Homo sapiens: one gene and its partners. The protein of the gene in region 4 interacts with the protein of the main gene of each other region in a pairwise test. Each region holds a gene or a part of one and is shown on either strand. Other genes may lie near its edges.

Evidence for each region.
Region 1: the proteins of PRPS1 (region 4) and CCDC141 interact in binary tests that used the Homo sapiens proteins (3 or more experiments, as listed by UniProt).
Region 2: the proteins of PRPS1 (region 4) and FBP2 interact in binary tests that used the Homo sapiens proteins (3 or more experiments, as listed by UniProt).
Region 3: the proteins of PRPS1 (region 4) and ZKSCAN8 interact in binary tests that used the Homo sapiens proteins (3 or more experiments, as listed by UniProt).

The regions. Positions count from the first base shown.
Region 1 is NC_000002.12:178,865,125-178,872,163, forward strand, and holds part of CCDC141 (coiled-coil domain-containing protein 141), read right to left. Parts: coding exon 7,009-7,039; intron 6,429-7,008; coding exon 6,303-6,428; intron 4,182-6,302; coding exon 3,993-4,181; intron 3,082-3,992; coding exon 2,902-3,081; intron 793-2,901; coding exon 643-792; intron 1-642. UniProt on the Homo sapiens protein: Plays a critical role in cortical radial and GnRH neurons migration during brain development. Regulates cortical radial migration by negatively controlling the activity of histone deacetylase 6 (HDAC6) and promotes centrosome maturation.
Region 2 is NC_000009.12:94,558,203-94,562,846, forward strand, and holds the end of FBP2 (fructose-1,6-bisphosphatase isozyme 2), read right to left. Parts: intron 2,123-4,644; exon of another isoform or gene 1,895-2,122; intron 951-1,894; exon of another isoform or gene 931-950; coding exon 736-930; 3' UTR 518-735; downstream 1-517.
Region 3 is NC_000006.12:28,151,844-28,158,882, forward strand, and holds part of ZKSCAN8 (zinc finger protein with KRAB and SCAN domains 8), read left to right. Parts: intron 1-1; coding exon 2-93; intron 94-417; coding exon 418-541; intron 542-1,212; coding exon 1,213-2,174; 3' UTR 2,175-7,039. UniProt on the Homo sapiens protein: May be involved in transcriptional regulation.
Region 4 is NC_000023.11:107,645,510-107,651,565, reverse strand, and holds the end of PRPS1 (ribose-phosphate pyrophosphokinase 1), read right to left. Parts: intron 3,961-6,056; coding exon 3,801-3,960; intron 1,627-3,800; coding exon 1,534-1,626; 3' UTR 540-1,533; downstream 1-539. UniProt on the Homo sapiens protein: Catalyzes the synthesis of phosphoribosylpyrophosphate (PRPP) that is essential for nucleotide synthesis.

The DNA of each region.
Region 1 (7,039 bases), on a different chromosome or scaffold from region 4:
ATAGAATTAAGCATGTGGAGGTGCATGGATGTAGAAGATCACTTTGATCTGTTATTTCTTTTTTCTTGAAGAGTTGTTTTGCCAGAAAAGCCAGTCAGTTTGAATAAATATGAAACCAGCCACTTGACCTCAGTGCTAATACTTCGTAGCCTCCAAAGCAAAGTGTCTGCTCCCTGGCCCCTGGCACCATTGATTCACCATGAGTCAATGACCCTTAAATAGAATTTCAGCAGGCTGGAGTTGGCTGCAACGAACTGGTCAATGTCACCCCTTCCTCTGGGTCCTGAAAAAGCTGTATCCACTGAAGCAAATGACTGCTATACAGGTTTGAGGGAGAAGGGGGAAGCAAAAAACAAATAAACAAAAGCAACCAAAAAAACTGTACTACTGAATTATAGGTTTTTCTATGCATTGACATCATACTGACTTCAACAAATTTGAGAGCTTGAAGTTTACTCAAACTTCCAGATCCCTGAGGTCACTGCTCAGTGGATTAAAAGAAATAAGTGAGAAGAAAGTCTCCTGATTCATTGTGTGTTTGCATGTGTGTGGGAGTGTGCACAAATGTGGACATTTAGACACATGCTTTAGGTTCAAACAGCTTTTTGGCAATGTGCCAGTTCTCACCCCTCCCACACCCACCTCATTTATCTCGTCTCTCATGGCGCAGTACTCCACACTACGGGACAGGGTCCGTCCATACTCCTCAGCTTTGGCACGCCACTTCATGCTGTCCTCCTCAAGGAGCTCCAGCTGCTGCTGTAGGTTCTTTGCAGAAACATTAGAGCAGTGCTAAAAGAGACAAATGGTGGTAACAGAGAGAAAGGACGAAACAGCAATAAGACGAGTAGGCTATTTACCTGAATTATGAAACTCATAAATGACACTTTTTAAAAAAAGAAATAGGTTCCTGATTTATTTTACCTTAAACATATTTGAACATAATTATTTCAGAAAGAAGCCAGTCACCCAACATTATGGAAAAGACATTTCCCAGCTCAAATCTCTAGTGTTGAAGATTCGCTCATCACACCCAACTCCTCAGAGACGCCATTCATTATAGGGTATAATTTTTACTTCAAAAGGCATAAAATATGCATTAGAAACATTTGATTTCTGCACTATAATTTTCCTGTCAACTTGAGCCTAACCTCAGGTTCATTATGCAAGTGCTCCAATCTCAGCTCAGCACAGTGGGGCTGCCAGGGCCAAGGCCAGAAGAGGATTGGAGAACAATTTACATTATTTGCACAAAGTGAGACTTCTTGCTTTCTTTTTCTTTTAAAAATAAATGTACTAATAAAATAAACTCTTTAAAAAGAAAGCTCTTTCCTGGCAAAAAACCAATTCCATTAACAACAACAGATAATTTGTATTTCTATATCTTTCAGTTTAAAAAATACATATTTTAGATTCACTGCATTTCATATAGTTTAGTGGATATCTTACATGTATTTTAAAATAAAATGGGCCATTATGATTTTATTAATGTTATACCTATTGTTAGAGTAAACATAATCTTTTCTCCCCTCAAGTTAGAAATCTGGAAAAGGATTTTTTTGTTTTGTTTTGTTGTTGTTGTTGTTTCTGTTTTTTTGTTTTGTTTTGTTTTTTTGAGATGGAGTCTTATTTACTCTGTCGCCCAGGCTGGAGTGCAATGGCTGGATCTCAACTCACTGCAACCTCCGCCTCCTGGGTTCAAGCGATTCTTCTGCCTCAGCCTCCCAAGTAATTGGGATTACAGGCACGTAATACCACGCCTGGCTAATTGTTGTATTTTTAGTAGAGACGGAGTTTTGCCATGTTGGCCAGGCTGGACTTGAACTTCTCGGCCTCCTAAAGTGCTGGGATTACAGGCATTAGCCAATGTGCCCAGGCTAAAGAAGGAATTTTTTTAAAGAATCAATGTCCAGTGTATTATTGATGAAAATTTGATCTGGGAATATTTCCTTCTCTTTTAGGCCTCTCTTTTGAAGTCCGACAGTGGCATCAAACAAATCCAACCAGCCCTGGCTAGAATCAGGAGGCTTGGACTCCTCCATTCTGGGCTTTTATGGGTAAGGTGGGAATTTCTGTTTGCCTCAAATTCTTCATCCATAAAATGATAGCTCTGGCCTGGATGAACTCTAAGATCTAGATGGTCTTCCAGATCTGCAATGCTAAAACAGCACTGGCCAACAAAATGTGAACCACACAAACAATTTAAAATTGTCTAGTAGTCATATCAAAAAATCAAATAAAAAGATAGAGCAAAATTAATTTTTATAATACAATAACCAACTATGTCCAAATATCACCATTTTAACATGTAAGTAATATAAAAAATACTAATGTGATTGCTTTTCATAATACCTCTTTGAAATCTGGTGTGTATTTCATACTTTGAGCTTCCTCATTTGTTGCTAAATTTCGATCAGAAATATTAGATCTGTATTTTAATTTTTTAAATTTACAGTTTCGAAAGTTGATTCCCATACCCAAATTGCTCCCAACATACTTAAAAGTTGTCCCATAACTATACTGAAGATCAATTTTTAAATTTATATTTAAATTAATGCAAGTTAAATAAAATTAAAACTTTAGTTTTTTAGTTGCATTAGGCACACATCAAAGGCAAAAAAGTGACTGCCACACTGGACTATACAGATCTACTATATAAATACTCTTTAAAAATTTTTTTTCATGAAAATAGAGGTATTCAACAAGACTTTTACATTCAGATTTTCTACTTAAAATTTTTTCTTTTGTCAGAGGGTAGAAATGAATCACAAATAACTACCCCAATGGTTTAGTTTATTTTTAAATTTAACATATACTAAGCAATCTGCCTGGTTTCTTTCATATGCTAGCCCAAGCCCCAGCTAGAACTGAGTCTAAATGATAGTGTTATTAGATGCTTACAGGCCGCTGCACTGATGAGATGATGTCGACTCCTAAGGAAAGGGCCAGTCTGTGGAGATGGTCTACACGGGCTTGCTTTTCCTGAGAGCACCGGAGGTGAATCTGCACATCATGGGCATCACCCAGTTCCTTCGGCTGCTCTACAAACTCCAGCTCTCTTGATTTGATGAGACGTCCCAGCTACAATTTAGGGCATTAACAATTAACCTGGGTTTTATATGAAGACAAATTTTTTTTTAAGCCTAATTTCTATAGCACATTTTGCTAGCTGGTCGAAATGCTGCCAAGCCCATCTTTAAACTGTTGGCATTAGCCAAATAAATGTTAGAATGCTGCAAATCCAATGGTGGTAAAATTGAACTGCTAACGTTGTCAGTTCCATTAAAGAAGGAAACAGTCTTTTTGGTCATGACCCAAAACCTTAGCAAGATCTAGGTCTGTGCTCTGAGTAAATTTAGAGGCTATTTTAAAGGGATATTAACGAATATTCCTCCATCTTATGTTAATAGAGACCATAACTATGAAGTTTTTGTAAAAATGCCACCAACAAATAGCACTCCATGATGTCAGGTACTTGAAGTGCAAAAAAAAAAAAAAAAAAAATCTAACTTGGTTTTCGCCCTCAAAGAGCCTAGAATTGAATTGGGGCGGGGGAGAGGGGGTGGGCGGGAAGCTATGCTTATCAAAAAGTAATTAAGAATCAAGATAGTAAAATGCAAGATATGTGGAATACACAATGAGCTGTAGGATTTTTGAAGAGAGAGAAATCATTCCAAGTGAGGTAGGATTGTTGGAAGGAGGTATAGGATTTAGATAAGAGGGAGGAGAAAGACAGACTTGTCAAATAATGGCAGCCTGAGAGTCAAGGGTTGGAGTTAGGGATGTGTGCATCATCTCTGAGGGACAAAGAGCTCAGTTTGGCTGGAACAAAAGGAAGAATAGGAACATAGTGAGAGAAAAGATAGGGGCCAGATTGTGTAAACTTCTGATACTAGAAGACACAATTTGGCCTTTATTTATTATATAATAATTCATTTTTAATTGCATAGTTTAAAACTCAGGATTTTTCAGACATCCCTTCTAAGCCTTACCTCTTCCTTGACTTGATGGAACTGGACCACCTTGTACAGGATATCCTCGTAATCCTGGATTCTCTCTTTCTGTTTTTGATGGAAGTGAATAAGGTCCTTCAGTTGTTGAGACTTTTCTTTTACAGGGGCTCCTCTGCCAGTTAACTCCTCTGATTCTTTCATAATGTACTGAACCTCATCATTCAATTGCTAAAACATTGAAAGCAATAAAAAAATCTTGCTATTAAAGAACTTTTTTACTTTACAACTGACAATATAAAGGTCTAAACAATGAATCACTCTTTCATTTGTTAACAAATACTTATTATGAATGCCCCCACCCTCCAAAATATTTGGGCATTGTGCTGGATGATAGAGATATGTTTTTCTATACTCACCTGAGAAATTTACAAAAAAAAATAGCATGAGCAATGCAACAAAGGTTTCAAAGCTAGGTGGAAAAACAAAGTCATACATTTCTATGGCATACCAAATATTCTATTCATCTGTTAAGTAAATGTATTTTAGATATTTTATGCAGCCCCATGATTATCTCTGATATTTAATACAGACTAGAATCAGGTGGTATGGTAAAAACACCATGAGAAGATGGGTGTAAAAATATATCAGGGGAATAACTTGTGCTCTGTGATAAAAGAATGATCAGAATGAACCACCAGCTGAACAGCATAGTAGATAGACTGCTTCAAAAGCGGTCATCCCATGATCCACAAATAGCCATCACATGTAGGGAGGGATAAACTGCCTTGCCTTTCACCCAGCATTGCTCAGATAATCCAGATTCTGGAATAGAATTTGCAAAAGGGGCATACTTTAAAGAGAATGCTACTATAGGCTGGGCATGGTGGCTCACGCCTGTAATCCCAGCACTTTGGGAGGCCAAGGAGGGTGGACCACCTGAAGGCAGGAGTTCAAGACCAGCCTGGCCAACATGGCAGAACCCTGTCTCTACCAAAAATACAAAAATTAGCTGGGCGTGGTGGCACACACCTGTAATCCCAGCTACCCCAGAGGCTGAGACACGAGAATCACTTGAACCTGGGAGGCGGAGGCTGCAGCAAGATAAAATTGTGCTACTGCACTCCAGCCTGGGCAACAGAGTAAGACTCTGTCTCAAAAAAAAAAAAAAAAAAAAAAAGACAGTGAGAGAAAGATAGAGAATGCTACTATAATTTCAAGTGTAGATCTTTTGTATGAAAGGTAAAAGTAATGGAAATGATTTAGACTAAGGAGATAATTTTCAGAAGAGTGACCTAAAAAGGGTCTTCAAGTTCAAGCATTTGGGCATTAAATATATGTGCATCACAGTGACAGGGCTAAAGAGGTGTGACAATGGTCCTGATTTAGAGGAACTTACACGTACATGCAAACGTGCACACAAACAAAATGCATATAAGCAGATAACGCAGGGTGTATTAAAGAGCCTAATATAGGCCAGTCACATTTGCTGAGAGTTTTATAAGAGTTTGCTGTGGATTACAATGGTGGGTGTGTTTCTGTGTAGCAGGTGCGGTGGTTATACTTACATCGGTTTTTGTCTTAAAGGAACCTACAATTAGATATTCCCTAAAGGAATCTTCAATATTCTGATTCTGGGATTCTTTGAAGCCCACATTTATGAAGCAGTGACAGCTAGAAACACAGGTATCTAAATTTTGCAGCAAAGCATAAGAATCCAGGCAGAAGTATAATGTGACTAGCAGGTGGCAATTTTTGGCGGTTGTGTCACATTTTGGAGAGGCAGGAGGTGGGGAAATAGGGACTGTGTTAAGCAGTCAGGGTCAGGAACATGACTCATGGTTTTATTGCTCATATCCTGAAAGGTGGAGTGGAGGGCACAGCAAAATTCCTGGGGTGATGGTACGTGCCTGGGGTGCTGGTGGGTGAGGACAGTGACATAACAGTGGTCACCTCAGGGACCCAGGGCAGCAGAGCCTCTGGGTCCGAGGTTGCCCATCCTTGTTCTGAGATGTCTCAATTTAAAACACCTCTGCACTCCCAAGGAAAAGAATTAGAGTGAAAATATAGGATAAATATATTACTAGTTTAATTAGCCATGTGAATTTTAAAAATCTAATATAAAAATCTATTTAGGACATTGTATAGCCCTAATGCTGGTATATCATCAAATTCAAAAGAATGCAGGAAAAAAGTAAGAAAAATGTCTCTACAGTGGATTTTTAGACAAGCAATACTTTTGTTTAAAAAAATAGAAATTCACCAGCCTGTTACAATTAATCAGGTAAACTGCAACCAAACAGTTTTAAGTATTTTTTCCATTCACCCAAATCCAGCAATATATTTCTTCACCTGGAACTGAGGCTTCATGTCATTCCATTTTTGTCGTAGATCTAAAATGAACTGGAGGCTCCCTCCGAGGTCAAGTGCAGACACAGGCATAAGTGCTTCCTGAAGAAGTTTTAAGTTGTGAGAAGTCTGAAATAAATATTGGACAGTTACACATGCATTTTCTTTGACATCTCCAGCAAATTTGATCATTCTAGGTATGACGCAGAGTGTGATCAAATTTTTCAAACCCCATGAAAACACTCAGGATGTGGCATGAGCTCAGGGTTCTAAACCACCAAGAAGTAAGGCCCTTGGTTTCTGCTGCCTTTTTTGGTTTTATTGTGGTAAAATACACATAACAAAAGTTACCATGTTTACCATTTTGGGGTGTACAGTTCAGAGGCATGATATTTAATACATTCACATCAATGTGCAATCAACATCACCACCAACCACCTCCAGAACTTGTTTATCATCCCAAACAGAAACTCTGTACCCATTTAACAGCTCCCCATTCCCTCCCTCTCTCTCCCAGTCCCTGGTAACCTACATTCTGCTTTCTGCCTCCATGAGTTTGACTACAGGGACCTCATTTATAAGTGGAATCACACGATATTTATCCTTTTGTGTTTGGCTTATTTCACTTAGCTAGTGTTTTCAAGGTTCGCTCATGTTAGCCTGTGTCGGAATTTCATTCCTTTTCACATCCCATTGTTCCTTGCCTCACCTTTTTAAGTTGCTCTTTGAATGCCGCCCAC
Region 2 (4,644 bases), on a different chromosome or scaffold from region 4:
AAGATATTAAGTTGGAAATTTACATGTGTTTGAGGGAGGTAATCACTACAGGATAAGACACTAGGTTCAAATTTCAAGCCAATCAAGACAATTTTTATTTTTTATTTTTTTAGATGGAATCTCACTCTGTCACCCAAGCTGGAGTGCAATGGCGCGATCTCGGCTCACTGCAAGCTCTGCCTCCCGGGTTCACGCCATTCTCCTGCCTCAGCCTCCCGAGTAGCTGGGACTACAGGCGCCCGCCACCACGCCCGGCTAATTTTTGTATTTTTAGTAGAGATGGGGTTTCACCGTGTTAGCCAGGATGGTCTCGATCTCCTGACCCCGTGATCCGCTGGCCTCGGCCTCCCAAAGTGCTGGGATTACAGGCATGAGCCACCGCACCCAGCTGACAAATTCTTAACTAATCTATGTACTCTTTGCCCACAAGCATGCAGCCGCCAATTATGTGGGTTGACAGACGGAATTATAACCATATTTGCCACTGTTTCTGACAGAAGACAAGCCAAAGTCGCACTTTCCACATGTGGGTTTTTATTTCTAGTCCTTCACATTGACCATAGAATCGCCTGTGGCTTCCAAACCTGTCGTAAGCAGTTTGTTGTTGCTCTTCTGTATGTGATTAAGTGGATTTACCTTTTGTATACTCATAGCTACCATCTCTGTTTATCGTTCATTTAGGGTCCTTAGACAAGGTGCAAGACAAACAGAAGAGGGCATGTGGGGTCAAACTCGCTAGCTGCCTGCCTGATTTTTCTGCACACAGGTGAGATATTCCTGCACATCCTCTGGTGACCCCAGAATGAGGGGGACTCGCTGGTGAATTGCCTCGGGCTTCACGTCCAGTACAGGCTGGGTCCCCGTGGTCGCCAAGCCTCCTGCCTGCTCAATGATGTAGGCCACGGGATTGCATTCATACAGGAGCCGGAGCTGTGGAGGAACAGAGGCAGGTGAGTAAACTCTGCAAGTGGCCAAATGTCCCGAGCCATGCCCCTAAAGCTGGGGGAGGAGTTTGTACTGCGGTGCTTCCATCTGGCTAGCATGAGCGCACCATGCACCTTGCAAGAGTGGGCCCGAGCTTTAGAGCCTACAGCAGGCCAGATGCATCAGATGGCACTCATCCAGAAGCCTTGGGGGCCCCTCTGGCCAGGTGACTGAGCCATGTATCTACCCATCTTGTGATCCTTGTGCTTATGAGAGACCTGCCTCTTGACTTGGAAATATGAGATCTAGGCATCTATTTCTTGGTTCAACAAGAAGCAAACTGATGCTGCAGGCCTTGGTGGAAGCCTTTATATGTGAGACCTCAAGGCTGGTAAAGAGTCAAGCTTGGATGGGACAGTAAGGTCACCTTGACCATGCCGGCTTGTCTCTCTGGGGACAGCCACAGTGGCTGGGATTGTGTGGAGGAACTCCACATCTTAAGCTTTGACTTGTCTAACTAGTTTGCCGGTGTTTCAATGGTCTTGTCTTTTGACCCTTAGACTAAGTGAAATCCCATCGTTTGCACTCCCATAGCATCCTGTACTTCCCCTCTGGTACCACTCATCACACTGAGGCCTCTTTAATGCCTGGCTTCCTCTCTAGGCTGCTGTCCATCCTAGCTGGTCACTGTACTATCTGTATTCTCAGTAGTGCCGACACAGAGAAAGTGTTGGCTCCGGCCTGTAATCCCAGGATTTTGGGAGGCCGAGGCAAAAGGATCGCTTGAGTCCAGGCATTTGAGACCCCATTTGAGATAGTGAGACCCCATCTCTACAAAAAATTTAAAAATTAACCAGGTGTGGTAGCGCACACCTGTGATCCCAGCTATTCAGGAAGCTGAAGTGGGAGGATCAACTGAGCCCCGGAGTTCAAGGCTGCGGTGAGCTGTGATCATGCTACTGCCCTCCAGTCTAGGTGACAGAGCAAGAGCCTGTCTCAAAAACGAAGAAAGTGTCCAAGCAAGGCCACTGTTTCCTGCACGAGGGGTCCCAGCCGAGGGCAGAAACTGGGTTGAAATCAGCCTGTGCCCTGCTTGCCAGTCTCTGCACAAGATCCAGGGCTGCTGTTCAGAGGAAGGAAGGCCTTCTCTAACCCTCCTGCAGGCACATGAGAACTGGCAGGAGGCTGCCTGTGTCCTGTGAGTACGCAGTGAATTGAAATGAATGGGGTTGGATTGAATGGACTTTTTAGGTCTATTTCTGTGATGATGTCATGACGCCCCCAGCCTGACTCACAACACACACCCCCATCACCTTAGATTCAGGGTGTCGTTCTGGCCGAGGCCCTGCTGCTGTGCATGACTCAGTATCATCTTCTTCTTTCTCCCCATCAGTGCAACCTGTGTAACTTCCCAAAAGTTCATTCTCCATTATCACCTTACGAAATGGTTGACCCAGCTATGTGCAGCCTTTCCTTACCATTCTTTTCTTCCAGTCCGTTTTGGTGATATGTTTAAACTACTTTGAGAAAGAGTCATATATTATGGTAATTTTTTTCTATTTTTCTATTATATATTTATATGTTATTATATATTATATAATATATATTTACATATAATATGTTATATATTTATATAATGTTATTATATATTTTTTCTATTGTATATATTATATATATTAAGGAGAGGAACATGATGCCTTTGGTCTAGGCTGGAGATCCAGGCATTCGAGAGAAAGTAGGTGAAGACTCCATGGGGGTATTTACTGCCATTTTGGTCAGTGTAAGGTGCCCTCACCCTAGACCTCTGGCTCTTAAAGTAGTGGGTGTCCAGAAGGGTGTAAAAAAGTTGTGGTGCATGCGGGCTGTCTGGGGGCAGATAGTTCTGTCCCTCATTACCCACAGGAGGGACACTGGAGGCCATGCTGTCCAGGACAGTCTAGCCAAGGAGACTCTCACCTTGACAGCTTATAGCGCTCAGCATTTTTCTCCCCTTTTATGTGGGGGATTTGGGGTATCAGATAATAAAGTCTCAGATTGTAATCAATTATCCTGTTGAGTCAACTACTTTAATCAAAAAAAGCTCAGCATTAGTACCTAATGCGCTTGTCTTGGAGCCAAGTTACTTTTGTTCTGACCTCAGATGCCCCTGTTGTAGGAAATTTAATATCAAAATGCCCAGGGCTTCATGGCACCTTGGCCTGCAGGCCATGTGACATGTGACCTGTATTTTTTTTTTTTTTTTTTTTTTTTTTTTGAGATGGAATCTCACTCTGTCACCCAGGCTGGAGTGCAGTGGCGCGATCTCGGCTCACTGCAAGCTCCGCCTCCCAGGTTCACGCCATTCTCCTGCCTCAGCCTCCCGAGTAGCTGGAACCACAGGCACATGCCACCACGCCTGGCTAATTATTTTTTGTATTTTTAGTAGAGACGGGGTTTCACTGTGTTAGCCAGGATGGTCTCGATCTTCTGACCTCGTGATCCACCCGCCTTGGCCTCCCAAAGTACTAGGATTACAGGCGTGAGCCACCGCAGCCAGCCATGACCTGTACTTTCTCTGCAATTAAATCTACACAGCTATACAGATGCAGACACACACAGGATAGGAGTGTGCACATGCACACACAGACACACACACACAGAGAGACGTCGGCACAGGGACCATGACAGCAGAAATGCGGAGATTAGGATCCAACAGAACTTTCAGTATGGGTGGTGGTTATGCGCAGCAAACGCAGATCTATCTATGGAGTGACATGTGCTTAAGGGACATGAGTATGTGATCCCATGTGAGTATTTTCTGACTCATTTACGATCATTTGAATAATTAGTAATAACTGATCTTTATGTTCTCCCCAATGTAACTGAGTAAGTGACCAGAGTGGTTCTAAGAATTTCCATGTCTTCGCCGGGCGCTGTGACTCATACCTGTAATCCCAGCACTTTGGGAGGCCAAGGCGGGCGGATCACGAGGTCAGGAGATCGAGACCATCCTGGCTAACATGGTGAAACCCCGTCTCTACTAAAAATACAAAAAATTAGCCAGGCGTGGTGGCGGGCGCCTGTAGTCCCAGCTACTCTGAGGCTGAGGCAGGAGAATGGTGTGAACCTGGGAGGCGGAGCTTGCAGTGAGCCTAGATGGTGCCACTGCACTCCAGCCTGGGCGACAGAGCAAGACTCCATCTCAAAAAAAAAAAAAAAAAAAAAAAGAATGTCCATTGTCCATGTCTTCTACTTGCCTCACTTAGTCCTCCATGGTGCTTAGCTTTCCTTCAGCACCACTTCTGCAGGCTTATCAGTGTTCTTAGTTCAGTGGGTGAATACACCTGGGCTAAGCACTCACATGAAGAGAAACACCTGATACACCAACCTATTAAAATCTCTCTGGCTTCATGTGCTGTGTGAGATCTCTCAGCGTGGCTTTGATTCTTAGCATTCGAATAATTCAAATCTCAAGGTGACTCTGAGAGACAGAAAAATGTGTCGCTGGTTGTTGGTGTGTCAGAGAAAACAGAGGCCTTTATTTGATTTGACTACTTACCTACGATTTCTGTGATTGGCTAAAATTCAGATGCATTTTTATGGGAGGTTCTCTGCAAGATAGCTGGATCATAAGGTTCTCACTTGATAATACAAGTATTTTAAGTTTTGCATCATTAAGTTGCAATTAGACCTTCCAGGAACTACCTTTCCAGATATATTGGCTGAGTTCTGAGTAGAAGT
Region 3 (7,039 bases), on a different chromosome or scaffold from region 4:
GCCATGTCTACTTCCCAGAGTCCTACTCGTTCCCAGAAAGGAAGTTCTGGAGACCAGGAAATGACAGCTACACTTCTCACAGCAGGGTTCCAGGTGAGTTGTGCTCCTTCTCACTGAAACGCCATAGCTGTGCTTGTCAGTGTTTGTGGCATCTGCCCTATATCTTGACTGTCTAGTTTGTAGCAGTACCTACCCAAAAAGTTGTCCCAAAAATTCTTTTGCCTAGGGACAGATTGATCCTGAATTTCCCCCAGTAAATCTCATGCATTTTCCTCTTCTTCCTAGCTATTCAGATCCCTTTACATAGTACATTCCCAAGTTGTAATTCTCTCCCAATACTGGTGGATCTCTCAAGCTCTATAGGTTTGAGCTGTGGAACAGTCCCAGTCCCCAAATGGGGATCTTGTTTTGTTTCAGACTTTGGAGAAGATTGAAGACATGGCTGTGTCCCTTATTCGAGAGGAGTGGCTTCTTGATCCATCACAGAAGGATCTGTGTAGAGATAACAGGCCAGAAAATTTCAGAAACATGTTCTCCCTGGGTAAGGAGAGGTGTGGTTATTATTGTCATTTTAGATTTTTTGTTTGTTTGTTGTTTATGTGTATAGTAGCTACAGCCTTTCTGAAAGACATAGTTAAGTTTAACTCAGGATCCAGCAGAGGGATATGATGTTGAGATTTCTTGAAATCTTACGTGAAACTTTTGTTCTCCTGTCCAGAACTTCCTTACATTTTGTACCAGGGTACTGGCGTTTTTGCCAGTTGGAAATTGACATCTCAGAGGTGCTCTCTGAGTTCATATATTTCTTCTCCAAGTTGTCATGGGATTCCTACATATATTTTTCTCACATAAATTAATTGTATCTCCTCCCTTTTGATGACTGGGCATTTTCCCATTTCTGTCCTGCTCATTAGTTCTTTTAGTAGTTCCATATTCCTCTCCCCAACTTTCACCTCACTTCAGTTCATCCTTTCCTGACTTTAGTTCCCCTTCCAATTAACTCTCTTTTTTTAATGGTACCTCTTTCCCAGTTGACTAGCTCATATTAAGCAAGGTCACTATTAAGAAGCTATTTTGGAGACAGAAGTTTTGTGTTTACTTATAGCTGTTCATGTGTACTTTCCTTTTCCCCTATCTTCAGTTCCTTTCTCCTAGCATAAAGAATAGGTTGTGACATTGGCTTGATGTTTGTTTATTACATTTTTATTTCAGGTGGTGAGACCAGGAGTGAGAACAGGGAATTAGCTTCAAAACAGGTAATATCTACTGGAATCCAGCCACATGGAGAGACAGCTGCCAAATGCAACGGGGATGTTATCAGGGGTCTTGAGCATGAAGAAGCCCGAGACCTTCTGGGCAGATTAGAGAGGCAGCGGGGAAATCCCACACAAGAGAGACGACATAAATGTGATGAATGTGGGAAAAGCTTTGCTCAGAGCTCAGGCCTTGTTCGCCACTGGAGAATCCACACTGGGGAGAAACCCTATCAGTGTAATGTGTGTGGTAAAGCCTTCAGTTACAGGTCAGCCCTTCTTTCACATCAGGATATCCACAACAAAGTAAAACGCTATCACTGTAAGGAGTGTGGCAAAGCCTTCAGTCAGAACACAGGCCTGATTCTGCACCAGAGAATCCACACTGGGGAGAAGCCATATCAGTGCAATCAGTGTGGGAAGGCTTTCAGTCAGAGTGCGGGCCTTATTCTGCACCAGAGAATCCACAGTGGAGAGAGACCCTATGAATGTAATGAGTGTGGGAAAGCTTTCAGTCATAGCTCACACCTCATTGGACATCAGAGAATCCACACTGGGGAGAAGCCCTATGAGTGTGATGAGTGTGGGAAAACCTTCAGGCGGAGCTCACATCTTATTGGTCATCAGAGGAGCCACACTGGGGAGAAACCCTACAAATGCAATGAGTGTGGGAGGGCCTTCAGTCAGAAGTCAGGCCTTATTGAACATCAGAGAATCCACACTGGAGAAAGACCCTATAAATGTAAAGAATGTGGGAAAGCTTTCAATGGGAACACTGGTCTCATTCAACACCTGAGAATTCACACAGGGGAGAAGCCCTACCAATGTAATGAGTGTGGGAAAGCCTTTATTCAGAGGTCAAGTCTCATTCGACATCAGAGAATCCACAGTGGTGAAAAATCTGAATCCATAAGCGTTTAGGAACAACATCAGTTAGAGTTTGAGCATTATTCAGCATTAGGGAAACCACACACTGGTGAGAGGTCTTTCAGTGTACTAAAAGGCAGAAAGGTCATCACAACTTTAGTGTCAGAATCTATAGTGGTGGCAAAGTTAGGATAGCTCTTTAGTAATTTGGGCCCAGTGCCTTGGTGAAGGTTGATTAGCTTGACTGTCTTTGAAAGTATCTGATGGAGCTCCTGATGACCTAATGTATCCTTTAGAAATTTAAAATAGCATTAGAGCAAGTTGCTTGTCATGGCTTGAAGAGCTTAACTTTGTCTTTTGGGTGAGTAGCTATAGGTTTGAGAGAGGCTGGCTACTCCTAGTTCCTGTGCTTCTTCCCATCTCCTGTGATCCCCCTCTCCCATTTATTCCCTTGAAGGTGCCCTTGTATTCCTAATCTGATCTAAGAAGCTGCTGTAGAGTCAGAAGTAGCTTCTGTGTGAAACTTATATTTGTATGTAGCTTTCTAGGAAAATTTTACAGACACTTAAAGTATTTATGCTTAAGTGTGCATTTTTTTATTCTAATATTCCTTCTAGTCAGTGGAAATTTGTATTCCCATACAAACTCAGAATGCTATATTTTTAACAGCACTCCAGCATTTTTCTTCATGTATCACCTTCACTGACTCCATTGAGTCATTGAGCATCTGTACATATCCTTCACCACCCCCAGTCCCAGCACCTGTGTCAGTAAAGAAAGTGGACACATTAGTAATGGTTATGGGAGTAATACAGAGAAAGAGGTGAGTGGAGACTCAGCCCAGCTGCTCTTGAGCTTGGATAGTTATACATTTTGGTGACTTCTGACTCTCCTTCCACCTCCCCACTGTACACTGTGGTACAGATAGTTGGCACTATCCTAGTTATGGCATCAGGTAGGAGAAGGAGACGAAGATGCTTTAGGAAGATAAAAACCTTACAAAGAATGTATACTCATCTTTTTTGGCCCATTACAATACTGCTTTCTCAGGTTCTTAACAGCCTGTGCAAACTCCCTGACTAGATGGTCTGTCACTCCTATCATTACCTTGCACCCATCTCTTTAGATGGCCTCAGCACCTCACTCGTTATTCTCCATCTGTTTCTTGCCATTAGTTTATATGACTTTAATATCCACAGTGGTAATCTAATACCTTACCTCACAGGTTTTCATTCTTTTGAACTCTGGTGCACTCCATCTGTAATCCATGTCTATAATCTACCAACAAAGATGTACTCTTAAACTCAGTATCACCAGGCACTATATTTCATCTTTGAGGCTTTTGTTATACCAAGGAATACTATATAAAGTAATGAGACTGGTTTAAAGTAACATGCCAGAACTTACGCATCCAATGTGGGTTGTCACTTGTTATTCCCAAGTACTATTATTCCATACTACTATATTCTTCCAAATATTTGGAACACTCTTAGAATTCCCATTTAATAAACCATATGAGAAAACCCTCTATTACTCTTACACTTTAGTTTTACCATTTGAGTAGCCACTTATTCACCAGAGTTGGAATTGAGAAATTTTGGGCTTTCCAAAATTAACCTTTAAACTTAAAATTGATTACATTGAGCCTATTCAGAAAAAAAATTATATAGGTTCTGATGAAAGCTTCATAATTTCACCCTGTGACTATCCTGAAAAGAAATAATAATCATTTTATGATTGATGGGCCAAAAAAAGCAATCAAAGTCTTACGTCATAGAGGACCACCTTTTGGATCATAAATTCTTTCCCTATAACATTCCTTCTCTGCCTCTCTATGGCCCACTTTGACCACTAACAACATCAGAATTATCTACATCAATTTCATTGAGCCATTGGTGAATGAAGACACCCATCACTTGTCATGTTGGTTTCCAACAGTCCTTTCGATTATCCTTTATTTTCTTATCCTCCCTTCTCTTGTTTCTTTTATTTATAAGTTACCATTCCTAGTTTCTTTGTACTTGAAATTTTAAGAAACCAGAAACAAGTAAATCTGGTTGTATCTAGATCTTTGCTCTGTGTTTCAGTTGTGCCTTACCCTCTGTAAGATACTGATTCTTCCTGGGGCCAGTATTACCTTGTATGCAAATATTACATATGATGGGTGCATTGTCAGAGGGAAAATATATGTGTATGTACACATGTGTATGTACACACACACACACACCTGCCATACACTTTAGAAGAACGCTTCTCTTCTATTCCAATAAAAAGTCCTTTTAGCAATGCAACATATTAACAAAATTGGGTGCATTCAGGGTGGTATGGCCATAGACCAGAGCAACACATTGAAATGTATACAGATGTACTAGCTAAAGTCTCTTTATGTGTCAGTATTAAGAGTAATATGTAGCCAGATTACTTAAATCTCAGAATTACTAAGCATGTGGCATAAATTTGGAGAAAATAATATGACTAGAAAAATTAGTGTTATATTGGGTGTGAGAAAAGACTGTGTCTTGAAAGAATTATCAAAGCTGATACAGCACATATACAGAATTAGCCAAATGGTATAAGACAATAGAAAAAGGCTGTGGATTCTTTGAGGACATCACTAGAAATCATTCTTTGTCTCAAGTTCACACTCTTAGCATAGAATATTATTGACTAGGCTGTATGACATTTTGAGCTCTTAACTGTGAATGGCATTCATTAAGCTCCTTTATCCTATAGATTCTATCTTTATGTTCATCTGAAATGAACTATTCATCAGTACTTTCTCCTCCCATCCTAAGCTTCTCATTTTAGGAACTGACATGATAAGGTGGTTCTTTCATAACTCTAATGCCATCCAACATAGCCCTGGGAGAGGCATGTTAGGTTTCAGAGATTTTCTCCATGGAGCAAGGTGCAGTGCTAGAATATGGTGGTTGATTCCCAAACAGAGCAGTTAACTTTACTCTTGGTTCTGAGTCTCCAAATAATAATAGCCGACGTTTATTGAGCACTTACTATGTGCCCAACCCTGTTATGCCTTTCTCAGGCTCATGATAAATGTATTAGTCTGTTCTCATGCTGCTATTAAAGACATACCTGACACTGGGTAATTTATAAAGGAAAGAGGTTTAATGGACTCAGTTCCACATGGCTGGGGACGCCTCACAATCATGGTGGAAGGCAAGGAGGAGCAAATCATGTCTTATACATGGATGGCAGCAGGCAAAGAGAGAACTTGTGCAGGGGAACTCTTTATAAAACCGTCCGATCTTGTGAGACTTATTCACTATCACAAGAACAGCACAGGAAAGTTCTGCCCCCGTGATTCAATTACCTCCCACTTGGTCCCACCCACGACACGTGGGAATTGTGGGAGCTACAATTCAAGATGAGATTTGGATGGGACACAGCCAAACCATATCAATAGGTATTATTTTATCCCCCATTTTATAAATGAGGAAACGGAGGCTTAGTTGAGTGAGCTGACCAATATCACCCAGCCAGTATGTGATAAAACTGATTCTGACCCACACAGTTTGATTCTAGAGCCTGTTCTGACTACTGTGCTAAGGTGTGTATAATGAACATGGTAATTCTAACCAGCTTTTTAAAAATATGTAGCGCTTGTCATGAGAGGTACTGGGGAAAAGAATGTGCAGTAGAGTGCAAATACATTACAATTACTGGAAAATTGGTGGAAAATGCTTTTTGGGGTTACAATTATATCATTTTTAAGTGTTGATGCTTTGTAGTACTACAAAGCTAAATTGTGCAAACAAAACATATTTAACAGAGTAATTGGGAGGATAAAGCAATAATAAATTCAAATATATTTTTCTCCAAACTGCCAAAGGGAAAGTAGAATTGTGGAGGGAAATGAAATATCCATGTACCAGGCCAGGCAGATGGTCAGTTAGGATGACAATAGTAAGTTCATCTACAGCATAAAATGTGAAATGCTTTCATCCTCATTGCCCATTTCCAACTACCATTCTGTTTCTCCTCTATTGTTCATGGTTTTTCAAACATATCTTTGATTTTTCAACCCCCCTTTTTCATTAATCTGTTCTTAAAACTTCTTTTTACTGGCTTTCATACTTAGCATTCCAGTGAAATGTTCTTAGACTCACCAGTGGACAAATAATAAGGCCTTTTTTTATTATTATTTCTTGTCTTTTTTGATCTAATTTATATTTTATATTGTTGAATTCTCCCTCCTTTGGCTTGTGGGATCCTTTTTCTCTAATATCTGTCTTTCTTTTTTTAGTTGATCTTTCCACCCACTCCCCTTTCTCCTCTTCTCCACTGAGAATAATCTCCCTGTCTTTTATTCACTTCATTTTCTATACTCCTATTTATCCATTTTGATTGTTTATACCTACTATTTGTATTCGAATGACTTCATTTTTCCCACCCTGTGGGTCAGTTTGTGACTTTTGGAATTTTCCACAGGTACCTGTACAACTTGATATTTGAAAACAGGATTCATCACCATATATCCCCAGCCCCCGTTTTCTTTTTAAACAGGCCTCATTGCGTAATTCCTTTGCCCTGAAAAGTGTCACCACCTTTATATTTTTACCCCAGCCTTGGAGTTATCTTTTTCTGCTCTCCATTCTCCATGTCCAAAAACTTGCTGTCAGTCCAGTTTTTAATCAGTTTTCTCCTTGAGGCTTGATCTCCCATTTCTCTCATCCCATTATAGCTTTTCATGTAGATCTGAGGCCCAGGTTACTGTAATTCTTTTTTTTCCAATTTCCTTGCTCCCAGGATCCCCATCTTGTATAAAGTTTCTAAGGTGCTCCTCCTCAAACTCCATTTTTACAATATCCGTATTGTAAAATTTTCATTTTCAGTAACACCCAGTAGATAATTTTTCAAAGACGATCCTCCTCAAACACCCATTTTTACAATATCTCTAT
Region 4 (6,056 bases):
AGGAGGCTGAGCAGGAGAATTGCTTGAACCCGGGAGGCGGAGGTTGCAGTGAGCCAAGATTGCACCATTGCACTCCAGCCTGGGCAACAAGAGCGAAACTCCATCTCAAAAAAAAACCAAAAAATCAAAAAAAACAAAGAAAGTAAATGCCAAACGTATGTCAATTACTGATGAATGGAAGGAAATTATCACATTTGGCAAAATTAGTTCAAAATGAATAAATCACAGAAATTCTCCTCCCATAAGAAAATACCTAATTTGGATCTTCAGGAGTAAGAACCAGAGATCCACCAGACATTATACATGCTATAATTTAGGTATACTGCACAGAATTACACTCTTATCACATTCTCAGTAAACTCCAGACATCTTAGTCTTACAGTTGAATAAAACTGCTGCCAATGTCTTCTCTTGGTTTAACAATGAAGCTAACGTAGTTTGGAAACAAATAAGAGCTATCAATGGACAGCAAGACATCTATCTAAACCAAACCTTTAGCAGAGAGATCAGTACAGATTATGTATGATACAGACCCCAAATCACACAGGTACACACACTTTATTAGTTTCCTCTACAAGAGACAATAACATCAATCTTTTTTAACAGGAATCTCAGTTCATTTGAGAGGCCAAATAGATCCAAAGAAGGAAGATGAAAATTAAATACTTAAATTAATCAAAAGGCACTACGATACCACCTAAAACCTACTGCCTCAGTGGCAGTAGGCTAAGGAAGATCAAGCTACAGCACATCATCTAATATGAATGTTAGCAATTACATAGCAGGAAGCATGTTTGCTTTCCAGAAGACTATGGTACAATGTTCATTTGGGCCCAAGAGGATATTTGGCCAGGAAAGGATCAAGATAGATGAAGGTAAAGCCAAATCGAAAGGGATAGGTACAAAGGAGAATCCAAGCTACATAGTCAAGCAGATGGTGATGGATCAGGCTTCTTCCTCCCAAGAAACATTTGCTGCACTGTGCTGCCTCCCCCCTCAACCACCCCCCACCCCCCACCCAATGTCTGCTCAAGCTGAGCTGCCTGCTCCTGCCTTACAGGGTGCTCAGCTACCAGGACTAGGTTTGGGGTTGCCCAGGGCTCTTGCTATAATTTAGCATAGACCTTGGGGAGAACTGGTCACACATGGGTTGCCTTTGTTGCTAGTTGTTCTCAACAAAGAAAACCCTGAAGCATTCACATACAAAGTAGTCTGAGCTTCCCCAGTCACAGTCAAACACCCTCACACAACATCCTCAAAAGTCTGAAATCTTGCAGCAGCTGAGCTATAGTTAAAGCTGCAAGGCCCACAGAATTATCAAGGAAGCCAGAATGAGATAATGCAGGTAGGAGGTCCCAGCAGTTAATCTCAATCCGTCTTTCCCCAGTTCGGATAAGCTCTAATATACCTGATGTGGGATGTAGAAAGCTACACTGGAGCAAGCCGGGTCTTCTGCTGAATTTGTCATCAAATACCAAGGGGAAACAAGGGTGGGGTGGATTTTATTCTCAAAAAGCCTCAGAAGTTACTCTATTATAAAGGGACATGGCTGAATAGGTAAGAAACGGATTCTCCATTGTGAGTTCTCCTGATGGCTTCTGCAAGGATCATAGAGATGTCAATCACCTAGAAAGGCAAGAAAGGAAATCAGGTTACTATCATATGGTCAGAGATGACTGGCCAATTTGCAGACACTGATGAGCAGCCAGGCAAGTGCCCTTCCTCTTAAAACTGCAACACTGTGCTGTTTCCCTGTCATGAGGCTGCACTCAGCTATTCTTCATAACATTTTTAAGATAGCCACTTACGGCTGGGCACGGTGGCTCACACCTGTTAATCCCTGCACTTTGGGAGGCCAAGGTGGGCAGATCACTTGAGGCCAGGAGTTGGAGACCAGGCTGGCCAACATGATGAAACCCCGTCTCTACTAAAAATACAAAAATTAACCAAGCATGGTGTGGCACACGCCTGTAATCCCAGCTACTCGGGAGGCTGAGGCATGAGAATTGCTTGAACCTGGGAGGTGGAGGTTGCGGTGAGCCAAGATCGTGCCACTGCACTCCAGCCTGGGTGACAGAGCGAGACTCTGTCTCAAAACAACAAAACAAAACAAAACAGCCACTTAGGAAAGAGTCAAAATGCTAACTGAGAAAAAACGCTGACTTTGGTTCATCAAAATGGCTGGGCACTGTGGCTCACACCTGTAATCCCAGCACTTTGGGAGGCCAAGGTGGGAGGATCACTTGAGCCCAGGAGTTTGAGTCCAGCCTGGGCAATATGGTGAAACTCTGTCTCTACAATAAAACAAAAATTAGCCAGGCGTGGTTGTGGTGTATGCCTGTAGTCCCAGCTACTTGTGAGGCTAAGGCAGGAGGATCGCTTGAGCCTGGGAGTTTGAGGCTGCAGTGAGTCAAGATCAGGCCACTGCACTCCAGCTTAGGCAACAGAGTGAGACCCTGTCTAAAAAAAAATGGTGGTAGGTTCGCATTTAAAAATCCTTCTGAATAGGCTGGGCGTGGTGGCTCATGCCTGTAATCCCAGCAGTTTGGGAGGCCGAGGTGGACGGATCACCTGAGGTCAGGAGTTCAAGACCAGCCTGAGCAACATGGAGAAACCCCATCTCTACTAAAAATAAAAAATTAGTCAGGCGTGGTGGCACATGCCTGTAATCCCAGCTACTTGGGAGGCTGAGGCAGGAGACTCACTTGAACCTGGGAGGCTGAGGTTGCGGTGAGCTGAGATCGTGCCATTGCACTCCAGCCTAGGCAACAAGAGCAAAACTCCATCTCAAAAACAAAAAACAAACAAACAAAAAAACCTTATGAAGGAAAAAAAAAAGACTAAGTTGAAAAAAAATCCTTAAGAATGACATCACCTGTAATCTCAGCACTTTGGGAGGCTGACACAGGAGGATAGCTTGAGGCTAGGAGTTTGAGACCAGCCTGGGCAACATAGGGAGACCCCGTCTCTACACATAATATCAAAAAAATTAGCTGGGCATGGTGGTGCACGCCAGCCACTTGGGAGGCTGAGACAGGATGATTGCCTGAGCCTTCAAAGTTGAGGCTGCAGTGAGCTTTGATTGCGCACTCCGGCTGGGGCAACAGAGCAAGATCCTATCTCAAAAAAAAAAAAAAAAAAGATGATAATCCTCCAATTACACATATTAATTTCAAAAAGCTCATAGATTAATGTGAACATTTTTAATTAAGCAAGGCCTTGTTCTTTTAGTGCAAGAGCACTCAAACTTTAGTTTCTAACAATTACTTGGGGAATTACTTTAAAATACTGGTTCCAGGACCTCTGGTTTTATAGGTCTTAGATGGAGCAAAGGAATCTACATTTTAATAAGAACCTTAGGTCCAGAGCACACTGAGAAACACTAAAGTTGGTAGAAGTGTACAATCAGTTTAAAGGTTTCACATTATATCTACAGGGGCCGATAGTTAACAGACAAACACATACTGTAAAGTATGGACTTGAAAACTTTAATTTGCATCAGAATCACTGGGAGAACCTGTTAAAATGTAGAATCTTAGGCTCCATCTTCCAGAGATTCTGAGGTGTAGCAATTTAAACTTTTAAACAGGTGATTTTCCCAAGGCTTGGCAGTTTGAAAAGAAAAAAAAAAAGGAAAAGAAACAGGTGATTGTTAACTTTTGGATCACAAATTCTGATGACAAGACTAAATCCTTCAGACCAAAGAAAGATATCTTCAGAATCCAGAGACCTAATTCAACGTAAGTAACCACCTCCTAAACACTTAGAAAAGTCTTGTTTTGCACAAATCTCATCCTCACCTGTATTTTGGAGCAATGCTTCATCTTGTCCTCCTGAGGTATGGTATTGGTGACTACTACTGCCTCAAAGCATGCGTTGTTGATGCGAGAAATAGCAGGACCGGAGAAGATTCCATGAGTCAAGATGGCATAAACTCTGGTGGCGCCAGCTGAGAGAAGTCTAGAGGGAAAAAATGTTGATTTGGATTCATCTTACTTGTCATTGCAGAATTTTAGTCAGGGAGGAGTATATTAGCCTGCTTAGGCTTCCACAACAAAATATCATATGAAAAAAAATAAAAAAATAAAAAATATTATAAGGCACAGTGGGTTAGGGGAAAAATTTTTTTAAGGAAAAGAAAATACCATAGAATGGGTGGCTTAAATAACAGAAACAAATTTTTCACAGTTCTGGAGGCTTAAAGTCCAAGATCAAGGTGCAGACAAAGTAGGTGTCATGCTGAGGCCTCTTCTCTTGTAGGTGGCCACCACTTTGCTGTGTGCTCAGATGACCTCTTTGTGTGTGAGTGTGAGTGTGTGTGCACGCATGCGTGCGCATGGGGAAATGCTGGCCAGTTCTCCAGCATTCTCTTCTTATAAGGGCATTCATCCCATTGTAAGGGCTCTGCCCTAGTGACCTCATCTAATCCTAAATACGTGCCCCTCAAGGTAACTCCAAATACCATCACATTGGGGTTAGGCCTCAACATATATGAATTTGGGGAGGACACAATTCAGTCCATATCGAGAAAGAACTGCACTAAGAACTTATCTGAATAGGTCTGAATTAGTGTCAAAGGACTCTGGCATAGACTGTTGCACTTAACAAAATCCACTTCCTCTTCTTTCTGGGCACATAGCTGAACTACATTTCCCAGCCTCCCTCACATAGTTCAGTGTGGCCATGTGGCTTAATTCTGGCTATTAAAATGTGGGCAGACACAATGTACATCAGTTTTTGGTTGGACTTAACAAAAATCTTCCAGGGGTGATCCTCTGTGTTCTTTTCCTTTTCTGGCTGGCCAAAATTGAAATGTCTTCCAAGGTAATCTTGGAAACCCCATGTTAAAGATATAGCACCAAAGATTGAAAGAATCTGAGCTCCTAACTATTGCTTAGAAAAAATGAGTCCAACAAGAACACTTGCATTGGAGTGTGCCATGGACAAGAAGGAAACTATCATGTTAGGGAGTTGATCTGTTATAGCGACTAGTATTCCCGTACTTGTACAAGGATGAAATGGGTTTTATGAATGTTTACTCCAGGATCCCAAACCAAGAATCATTCACCCCAATTTTTTTTTAGCACCTATTATGTGCCAGGCACTGTGCAAGGCACAGACACAAGAAAGTTTAAAAAAACCATTCTCAGGGCTGGGTGCTGTGGCTCACAGCTGAAATCCCAGCACTTTGGGAGGCTGAGGTGGGAGAATTGCTTGAGCCCAGGAGTTCAAGGACAGCCTGGGCAACATAGTGGGACTCCTTCTCTACAAAAATAATAATAATAATAATAAATAATTACCCAAGTGTGGTGGCACTTGCCTGTAGTCCCAGCTACTCGGGAGTCTGAGACAGGAGGATTTCTTGAGCCCAAGATTTCAAGACTGCAGTGAGCCGTAATTGTACTACTACACTCCAGCCTGGGTAACAGAGTGAGACCATGTCTCAAAATAAAAATAAAAGTAAAAATACCATTCTAAGAAACAATGCTGCTCATAGTGGCTTGGATTGTTAGTAATGAGGGGCCACTTAAAATCTTAAAGAGTGATGGGATCGAGCCTCAGTTGCAGGAAGATTAGCAAGCATGGAGAGATGGAGTGGGGAGGTGAGAGAACGGTGACTGGCAATGGAGAACAGAGTGGGGAGGCAATTTAGAACACTGCAGGCAAGAGATGACAAGTAATATAAACATTAACCTATCACAGGATTAGAGTGAAAAAAAGAAGTAATAATGAACAAAAGTAGCAGCCGGTAAAACAGTCGAGAAGTAAGACCAAGGGTTCCGGCTTAGGTAAAATAAAAATATGAGCACACACACCTGTCTGCTCAGGATTTTTATTTTAACTCATTAAAACAAAAAACAATCGCATGTAGCATACTCAGGGTGATCAAAAAACTTTGATGATCAGGCGATGGTTGTCTAACATTGTGAATATAGTTAATGTCATGGAATTATACACTTAAAATAGTTAAAATGGCAAATTGTGTTATATGTAGCTTAGTACAATATAAATTTAAAAAATAAGAAAATCTGAAAAAAAAATAAGAGTACTCAACA